Linked DNA regions of Homo sapiens: region 1 is linked to region 2. The links come from fine-mapping of genetic effects on gene expression. A gene starts in region 2. The other region holds a variant in brackets. All regions are shown on one strand. Distances are between the middles of the regions.

What was found.
Region 1: its variant is fine-mapped to the expression of PAPSS1 in whole blood (INTERVAL, PIP above 0.99).

Annotation. Positions count from the first base shown.
Region 1 is chr4:107,690,519-107,695,518 of GRCh38, forward strand. It overlaps PAPSS1 (3'-phosphoadenosine 5'-phosphosulfate synthase 1), which reads right to left. Exons shown (of 12, transcript NM_005443.5): 3 at 3,253-3,488. Among named protein-coding and RNA genes, the nearest start is that of PAPSS1, 27 kb to the right of the region's middle. The variant G/A (reference allele first, on the strand shown) is at 2,653.
Region 2 is chr4:107,718,224-107,723,688 of GRCh38, forward strand. It overlaps PAPSS1 (3'-phosphoadenosine 5'-phosphosulfate synthase 1), which reads right to left and starts at 2,011. Exons shown (of 12, transcript NM_005443.5): 1 at 1,897-2,011. The coding sequence starts at 1,956. RefSeq lists enhancers at 1,264-1,323, 3,314-3,463 and a silencer at 1,954-2,203.

The DNA of each region.
Region 1 (5,000 bases), 28 kb before region 2:
CTTCACATCTCCGCATTCCCACCAGACTACCAACTCCTTCAGAATAGGAAGTATCAGGTTAATTTTCAGAACCAATATGCTCAGTTCAGTGGTTGACATGGAAATTCCCAATAAACTTCTCTTGAATGAACAAATATAATCATGACTATACAGAAAAATACACATGTCCTGTATTGCATGTTTCAATCCAAATATTTTCATGGATTTTCAGATGCCCTAAACATAGTCCAAACCTCATTATCAGTGCTTTTATAGATGAGGTCAACAAAGATTTTGCTCCACACTATACAAACAAGGGGGCCACAAAGCAGATCAGCACACACTCTTAGATACCCAGGTGTCGGCTGATAGCTCTCCATAACAGGTATTATAGACCTCCCCCTTTTCCGAGAGCTGCAAGATTCCCACCAGAAGGTATAAGAATGCCAATATCATATTTTTATGAAAATTGTGTATATCCAAGGATTCAGGAACTCTAACTCTTATTATGCTCCTATTATTTATACACTTTAAACTGATATATTGGCAATGACCCAAGGGTTTCAAGAAATGGTTTTTACAGAATGTTTTAGGACTCCTGCCATGGTTCAATTAAGTGAACCTGTGTAAATAATACTCAATCTAACACTTATCCATAATTCTTACAGGTCAAATCTTGTTTAAAAAAAAAAAAAGTCCAAGTAACCATCAAAATTTATGATACAGTACTAGAATTGTGCTAATATAATTTATTCCATTTATTGAATAGTTATTACATGCCAGGCACTGTGCTGAGGCTTTAAACACATGACTTACGTAATCTTCAGAGCAACCCTATGTTGTAGGCATTACTTGAACTGCAGGAGGTTAAGTGTGCTGGACAAGGCCACAGCAGCAATAACTGGCAGAGCTGAGATTTCAGCCCCTTTGTTTCCAACTCCAAAGACCCTGCCTCTCACCTCTATACTAACTCGCTTATTCACTGATATCAGGGCTTCCCAAGGGAGTATGCTATTGTTCAACAAACACTAATCATATAATATGGTCCAAGAGCCGGGCTTGGCATCAAGATTACAAAGGCAAATAAGACACGGTCCCAGCTGTCAAGGAGCCAGTGGGGTTTGGAGGCAGCATAGCATCTAAGCCCAGGAGACGCACTGTCTGGATGCAAACCTGTGCTCTTCTACAAGTATAGTGTGTGACCTTGGGCAATGCACACCTTTGTTTCCTTGTGTCCCCACTAGGAGACAAGAATTACTTGAGTTAATTCACATAAAAGCACTCTAGCAGTTACCAGAACACAGTTAAGTGTTCAATAAATGTTAATATTATTACCACTACAGCTACTATCAATATCAACAGTCAATGAATTGGGTTTTTAAAAATAACATATGCATACCTGCAACCATCTTATCTTTGACAAACCTGACAAAAACAAGCAGTGGGAAAGGATTCTCTATTTAATAAATGGTGCTAGAACTGGCTTGCCATATGCAGAAGATTGAAACTGGACCCCTTCCTTACACCATAGGCAAAAATTAACTCAAGATGGATTAAAGGCTTAAATGTGAAACTCAAAACTATAAAAACCCTAGACGAAAATCTAGGTAATACCATTCAGGACACAGGCACAGGCAAAAGATTTCATGACAAAAACATCAAAAGTAATTGCAATAAAAGCAAAACTTGACAAATGGGATCTAATTAAACTAAAGAGCTTCTGCACAGAAAAAGAAACTATCATCACAGTGAACAGACAACCTACAGAATGGGATCAACAAGGAACTTAAGCAAATTTACAAGAAAAAAACATTAAAAAGTGGGCAAAGGGTATGAACAGACACTTCTCTTAAGAAGACATACATGCAGCCAACAAACATGAAAAAAAGCTCAACATCACTGATCATTAGATAAATGCAAACGAAAACCACAATGAGATACCATCTCACACTCGTCAGAATGGCTGTTATTAGAAAATCAGGAAACAATAGATGCTGGTGAGCTCGTGGAGAAAAAGAAATGCTTTTACATTGTAGGTGAGAATGTAAGTTAGTTCAACCATTGTGGAAGACAGTGCAGTGAATCCTCAAAGATCTTGAGGCAGAAATACCATTTGACCCAGCAATCCCAGTACTGAGTATATACCCAAATGAGTATAAGTCACTCTATTACAAAGATACATGCATGAGTATGTTCACTGCAACACTATTCACAGTAGCAAAGACATAGAATCAACCTAAATGCCCATCAACGATAGACTGGATAAAGAAAACACGGTGTGTATATATATATATATATATCATGGAATACTATGTAGCTAAAAAAGGAATGATATCATGTCCTTTGCAGGGACATGGATGGAGTTGGAAGCCACTAACCTCAGCAAACTAACACAGAAACAGAAAATCAAACACTATATGTTCTCACTTATAAGTGGGAGCTGAATAATGAGAACACACGGACACATGGGGGGAAACAACACACACTGATGACTGTTGTGGTTGGGGAGGGAGAACATCAGGAAGAATAGCTAATGGATGCTGGGCTTAATACCTAGGTGATGGGATGATCTGTGTAGCAAATCACCATGGCACACGTTTACCAATTTAACAAACCTGCACATGTAGCCCTGATCTTAAAATAAAAGTTGAAGAAAATAAAATAATGTGTTAA[G/A]GTACCTAACCTAAGTCTCCATCTATAACTGGAAGTCAGCTGACACTGTGAAAACAGGAACAGGAGGGAGAAGAGTGCTTTCCAGGCAGGGAGGAAACAAAAATCCTGAGATAAGAAATGACATAATTTTTTCAGAGAAATACACAAACATGGTTTGTTGTTGCTGCAGTCTCTAAAATAAGAGGAACTATGATGCAAGCTAAGAACAACGAATTCTGAGCAAAGAAGCCATGGTAGGGCACATGTTAAGAAAGTTAGATTTTCTCCGGAGTTTGACATCTGTCAAGTATTCACTATAGTTTTATTAAGTTGAAAAGTTGAGCCTGAAATAATTTGGCCATTGGCTTAAATTCAATGACTGTGTTATACTTCACGGCTTTTTTAAAAGCAGGTTTTATCAAAACCAGATTTACTTAGAAAGTCACAGCATAGAAATGTTTTAGGTTATTTTAATCCTATGTTACAGGAACAAAGAGATGGTAGCTGGGGAGGAGTAGAGTTAGCCTCAAAGCACATATCAATGTTTAAAGTATGTGCTTTGCCTGATACCATATTCTCAATAAATGTAAGCAGAAAGGCAATGGCACAAAAACCACATACCTGAGTGTAAGGTGATATGAAACTTGTGATGCACACTAAGCCAGCATCTGCAAACAGTTTAGCAACTTCTGCGATGCGTCGAACATTCTCTTCTCTGTCTTCAGGACTAAAGCCAAGATTTTTATTGAGACCTTGACGAATATTGTCACCATCCAGAGTGTAGCATGGAATACCATGACAAACCAGGTACTCCTCCAAGGCCATGCTCACAGTAGTCTTTCCCGCTCCAGACAAGCCTAAAATTAAACAGTCCAAACAGATTCCATGTGTAAAGTTAGAAGGATAACTATGTAGTAATACTTTTTTTTTCCCAGAAACAAGAGTCTTGCTCTGCCACCCAGGCTGGAGTGCAGAGGCTGCATAGCTCACTGCAGCCTCAAACTCCTGGACTCAAGAGATCATGCCTCAGCCTTCCAAATAGCTAGGACAACAGGCACATGCCACCACATCCAACTTATTTTATTATTTGTAGAGACAGAATTCTCAATATGTTGCGCCAGCTGGTCTCAAACTCCTGGCTCAAGAGATATAAAAAATTGCAATCACAGGATTAAATACATTCATTATGCAAAGCAATCTCTCAGTAATGTTCTTATCTAATATTTCTCTTTAAGATTTACCTCTTGCCTAGGAAAACACCTACAGTTTAAACATAATAAGTGTTTGTTTTAATGAAATATCTATGAGCAAACGTATCAGAAATCACTGATAAACTTCAGAAAGGCTTAACTAATTTTATTAGCAGACATGGTTGGGAATTCACTTTGTCCTCTCGTTACCACTTTTCTAAAGCTGCATGCCAAATTTTAAAACAAAGTCATATGCCCAAATTATTTCTGGTGAGGGAAGAAAAAGAAAGGACAAAAGAAAGAAATGTTACAAAGGTACCTCCATTTTCCTAGATCATCAGCACTCACAAACCACCTTGATACAATTATCTGGGAGTCCAATTTATAATATAATTAATTTTAATAGAACACCCTCATTTCAACTCACCTTCCTATACCAACAGTATTTACTCAGTAAACAAAGAGAAGGAAAGAGTACATTTATGCACTATTACTTGCCAACTTGGCGAGTGTCATAACCAAGATAGTTCTAAAACAAGAGATAAAATACTAAAGTCTAATGTACCAATGCTCTTGAAAGAATTCATGGTAGTACAGAAGGCTAACTGGAATAAAAAAAAAAATAGAAGAGAGGGCTTTTTTTTGGTTCCATATGAAATTTAAAGTAGTTTTTTTCTAATTCTGTAAGAATATCAAATGGTAGTCTGATGGGAATAGCATTGAATACATAGATTACTTTGGGCAGTATGGCCATTTTCACGATACTGATTCTTCCTATCCATGAGGCTGGAATGTTTTTCCATTTGTTTGTGTCCTCTATTATTTCCTTCAGCAGTGGTTTGTAGTTCTCCTTGAAGAGGTCCTTCACGTCCCTTGCAAGTTGTATTCCCAGGTATTTTACTCTCTTTGTAGCAATTGTGAATGGGAGTTTATTCATGATTTGGCTCTCTGCTTGTCTATTGTTGGTGTAGAAGAATGCTTGATTTTTGCACATTGATTTTGTATCCTGAGACTTTGCTGAAATTATTTATCAGCTTAAGGAGTTTTGGGGCTGAGACTATGGGGCTTTCTAAACATAGAATCATGTTATCTGCAAACAGGGACAATTTGACTTCCTTTCTTTCTATTTGAACACCCTTTATTTCTTTTTCTTGCCTGATCGCCCTGGCCAGAACTTCC
Region 2 (5,465 bases):
TACAAGGATCAGAAAATTTAAAATTCTAGCCCCATCAAAAATCCCCCATAGAATCAAGTCTTCTCTGCAGCCAAACACAAGAGCATCACGGAGCCCCAGCCTCCCTATTGAACCTTACCTCCACTTCCCAACAAAAACTCTCCAGGGCAGTCAAACAAGTTTCGTCAATGTTTCTGGAGTAAAAAAAATAGTAATTTTTATTCCCAACACTTATCCATGCAGTTCCCCTCTGACTCAGAAATCTGAAATCCTCCATAAACCCTCCCAAAACGCCCAGGCGAAACTAATCTCTCCTCTAAATTGCAATAAAACTTCTGTCTTACGCCACTCACTCTGGACCACAAAGACATATTCACCACTTGGCAAATGTCACAACCCCAACACAAACCATGAACTACCAGAAGGCAAGCAGTAAGTCCCACATTTTTCACCACCATGTCTAGCACAAGTCTCTACATAGAATACGCACCATGTGGCAAATGTTAATAAATAAATGAGTACATAAATGGACAATGTAACAGAAATCATCTGTAAATACCCCAAGTAAGCCAACCTTATTTCCCTAACCGTGAAACACCTTAAGGTAAGAGAAGCGAAACTGAGTCTGAGTTTCAAGGCAGTGGTTTCACCGCACATTCAAATTCATGATCTGTCTTCTTTGTTCATCAAAACAATCCCGTGAAGTACATACTATTATACCCTTAAGTCAACTGAGGTTCGAAAAAGTAAAGTGACTCTCCTCAAGATCACACAGCTAGTAAATGGCAAAGCTGGGATGAGAGACCAGGCCAGGAGTCCAGCGCTCTTTCCACTGTTCTAATTCATCTTTTAAATCTCCTTCCCCTCCTTACCATCTATAGAGTTAAATAAAAGGAGAGAGGAATCAGTAAACAACTCATGATAACAATAACAACAGATGTGGTAAATTAATGACTTCCAAAGAACATTTGCCTGAAATTGCTTGTTTTTTTTTTCTTTGATTCATCTAGGGCAAGTAACGTTTTGGGAGACATTGCATTTAAACCTTATTATTCCATTGGACTGTGAAATAACGTTTCCGTCTAAACTTAAACCAGTGCCTTTCCAGACTCCAAAGATGGGCCCTTCCCTGCTGCACACTTACAAAGGAAGATAAGGCTCTTTCTCATCACAGAGAAATTAAGGAAGTAAGCAACGTTATGAGGACACAGCACTTTACAAAGTCAACTGGCAGTCATTACTAAACGTTATAAAGGACTGGTCCCATACCTGACTGTCACCAGGAATGGAGTCTTCCAAACTCCTACTTGTTAAACATTCCGATTTAACACAGAGACACAAAGAACCTCAGTTCAGGGCAGTCTCAACTCATGAATGACCACATTGTTGGGTACTCTCCTTTCACACTGAAACTCAGAAATGGAAAGACACGGAGATGGACCCAAACCTGGGCCAACCGCACTGGCAGAGCCAAGAAAAACCAAGAACGCGTCGAAGGCGCCCGCCTCCGCCTTCTCTGCACATCTTCAGGCCACTCCAAGGTATGCAGGAAGCTCCTGTTTCTGCAGCCGCAGGTTTCAGCACCCGGAGGTTTCAGCAAGCGCCAGTTCACGGGTGAAGGATTTTCCTGGGGGTCTTACCTGAGCGGAGGCGCTGGGGAGGGGGGGCGTTCTTCCCACGAACGGTGGCTCGGACCGCACGCTGCGCCAAGCTAGGGCGAGATCCCCACCCTGCGCCGCGCCCCTCTGCCTCGCAACCACCCACGGCCCCAGCCGGGAGGCGCCGCAGCCCCGGAACCCACCTCCGCGCTCCTGGAAGGATGGATGCGGAGGAGGCGGGAGAGAGGCGGCGGCTCCGGAACGAGCTGCTCCCACAGCCCCTCCGCTCCTCGCCGTCTCGCCTTCGTCCCCAGCTTACCCAGTTCTGCGCGTTATTGCTCAGTTTGACTTTCTTGCACAGGCTCCCGGGGATCTCCATGACCGCGGAGCGCGCTGAGCAGCCGGGGTTCTCTGCGCCGGGAGGGTAGCAAGAGGAGGGCAGGCCAGCGAGCGGGGCGGGGCTGGAGGGCGGGGCCTCCTCGCGTCGGAGCGGGCGCGCGCTGACTTAAGCACGCGCCCGTGCTCGTGGCCTGGGTTGCGCGGCGCATGCGGCGCGCCTCGGAAATGGGTCCGGGGCAGAGGTCTGTGGGGAAGGGCGAAACGCCGGGATAGAACCGGAGGTAGAAGCTGGGGGCGGAGCTTCAGCGCTCGCGCCGGCGCGGGCGCGCACGGCGCTCCTCCTTCCAGATCCCGATGAAGGGGCGGGGCCTGGAATGCAGTCGTGGAACCTCAGGTGCCTCTGCGGCACCGAGCCTAGCTCTGAGCTAACGCAGATCTCTAAGAGCGAGTACCAGCCGCCGGGAGAAAGGCAAGGGGAGTGCGCGGCTCGCCGCGCGCGGCACTCCCTCAGCAGAGGCTGATTGGGAGGACGCTGACGCGGCCTCTTGCACCTGTGGCTACTCCTCCACAGACCTGGCTGCCGACCTCCTGTCTGCCCCTTCTGTGCCCATGTCACCCTGGCCAAATGTTTTAAATGTTTTACAGCTTTGCAAAGGGAAGAATTGATTTACCGAACAGCTCATTCTCCACATTAAAATTCTACTCAAGACACAATTTTTTTTCTTTTTTTGAGACGGAGTCTTGCTCTGTCGCCCAGGCTGGAGTGCAGTAGTAGGATCTCGGCTCACCGCAACCTCTGCCTCCCGGGTTCAAGCGATTCTCCTGCCTCAGCCTCCCGAGTAGCTGGGACTACAGGCGTGTGCCACCACGCCCGGCTAATTTTTGTATTTTTAGTAGAGACGGGGTTTCACTATGTTGGCCAGGCTGGTCTCGAATTCCTGACCTCATGATCCGCCCGCCTCAGCTTCCCAAAGTGCTGGGATTCCAGGCGTGAGCGACAGCGCCTGGCCTCAAGACACAGTTTTTAAAAAGATATAATAAAAGCCCGATTTCTTGACATCAATAATTAATATCTCAACCTGGATTAGTGATTACTTATAAGGTGCCTCCCTCTCCGCTAGGAGACCCCACTTCGCATCAGATTTCTGTGCAGTGCTTCTTACCGACCTACACCGGAAAGGGGCTTCTGTATTATTAAGAGCTACTCAGGAAATACCTAGAGGACTGAAATCCAGGACCGGGGAGGCCGCAGGTAACCCCGAATAGAACTCCCGCCTACGGAGGACATTTTCAAATTCACCTAATTATTCCAGGGCTAGTTCGTAGGAGGATGGGCTGGGGGCATGACAGAGTTTCCTCCAGGAGTTATCTTCCCCACACCCCCCATAACTCTGAGTTCTCTTTTCCGCAGCTTGCCCCTGGCACCAAAAGAGTTGCTTGCAGCTCTGCCCCCCTGTGACACAGCCGCCCTCCGCCCCTGACCCCGCCCATCACCAAGACCTGAGACTGCTGCCTGTTAGTGACTAGCAAATTAGCCCCCATCACCAAGACCTGAGGCTGCTGCTGCTGCCTGTTAGTGACTAGCAAATCAGCCCCCATCACCAAGACCTGAGGCTGCTGCCTGTTAGTGACTAGCAAATCAGCCCTCCATCTATTTGCCCCACTGCTACTGTCTTAAATTAGGCCTCCCCTATATCCAGCCTGAGTTATCATTAAGCCCGTTCACTGGACATCCTCCCAGCTGTGCAGCCGCTCTCCACATCCCCGCCACACACCCCATTCTTGCACCTGCTGTCAGAGCGGTATTTCTGAAACAGAAATCTGATCTTGTTACTTGACTACTTAAAATGTGAATGGTTCCCTTCAGCTTTTTTTCTAGGGAATTTTCAATCTGGGGTTCATACATAGAACTGAATTTCAATATAATTTCAAATTCTGCCAATAACAGGAATGAGCTTGGAAGAAGATCTCAAGCTTCATATGAGAAAATAGGGCCACATCTGAAGTTAGCCATTGCTCTGAGTTCTGGTTCTTATTAGAGGGAAATGGTATTTAGATATAACGATCTGGCTCTAGGAGTGCTCACTGCTGTGAGTTTGACCTTATTTCTAGTAAAAGACTTTTTTTAAGGTAAAATATATCATAAGTTTACATTGATACTGTCCATCCAAATTCATGATTCCAGATATGGGTCATGCAAATGAGCCAGAAACATCAAACAGGAAACATAACAAAAAACTGTCAAAAGCTACTCGGATTATGTCAAAAGGACTCAGAAACCAATTTAAAGAAATTTTTCCATGTCAAAGATGGGAGAATTAAAGCACTAAATGGACTAGAACTACAAAATATTAAAACATATCAAATATGTTTAAATCTAGGTGTTTGTAATGATGATGATTTTAAAAAAAATTATTGTCACTCTTAGAGAATGCTAGGAAACCAACTCATTATTTTGAAAACTGGTAAATAAAGGGGATGAATTAAGCATTTACTCTGCTTTCCCTGGACTGTCTGGGACCCAAAAAATTGATAAAGAGAAGTTTCTCTTTACAGAAGTACCACTAATAAATAAAGAAGAAATGATATCATTTTAATATCACCACTTTTCATTTTCTACTGAAATAATGGATAAAGACAATGATCCTCTGTATTAGTCAGGGTTCCCTTAGAGGGACAGAACTAATAGGATATATACATATGAATGGGAGTTTATTAAGTATTAACTTACACAATCACAAGGTCCTACAATAGGCTGCCTGCAAGCTGAGGAGCAAGGAGAGCCAGTCTAAGTCCCAAAACTGAACAACTTGGAGTCCGATGTTCAAGGGCAGGAAGCATCCAGCACAAGAGAAAGATGTAGGCTGGGAGGCTAGGCCTATCTTGCCTCTTCACGTTTTTCTGCCTGCTTTATATTCCCTGTTAGCGGTTTAGGTGGTGCCAACTCAATTAAGGGTGGATCTGCCTTCCCCAGCCCACTGACTCAAATGTTAATCTCCTTGGGTAACAACCTGACAATGATCAATATTGCATCTTTCAATCCAATCAAGTTGACCCTCAGTATTAACCATCACAAGTCCACCCCTTGACAACTTGAACCCATACACATCTCCTGAGATCATTCATAATCTTCAAATAAGACAATAATAAGGTCATAATTATGTCTAACATAACTGAACTGTCCTTTGTACAACTGGAAATGCAGTCCCCAACTCACATACTATTACATAAAGTTAACAATACTTAAATGCTGATATGAAGTCAGTGAATCTCATATCACATGATAAAGGAAAAGGAAATAAAATGAAGATATTTTCTTAGTACAAGTGTATGCATGCACAAACATGTTTTTAACAAAAGAAGGAGGAAATTCTCATGACAATCACAGTCCTCGTTTCTGCAGCTGGTCATGTGCTCATAGCTGGTATTGATGACTACCTTTTTCTACTACCCATTCTGTATTCCCTTTGCCTTCAGCAAGTACCTGAACAGGTGGTGGTTTTTTTTTCCTGGTGGAGTGACCCAAACCTTCATTCCTGAAGGGTCTGG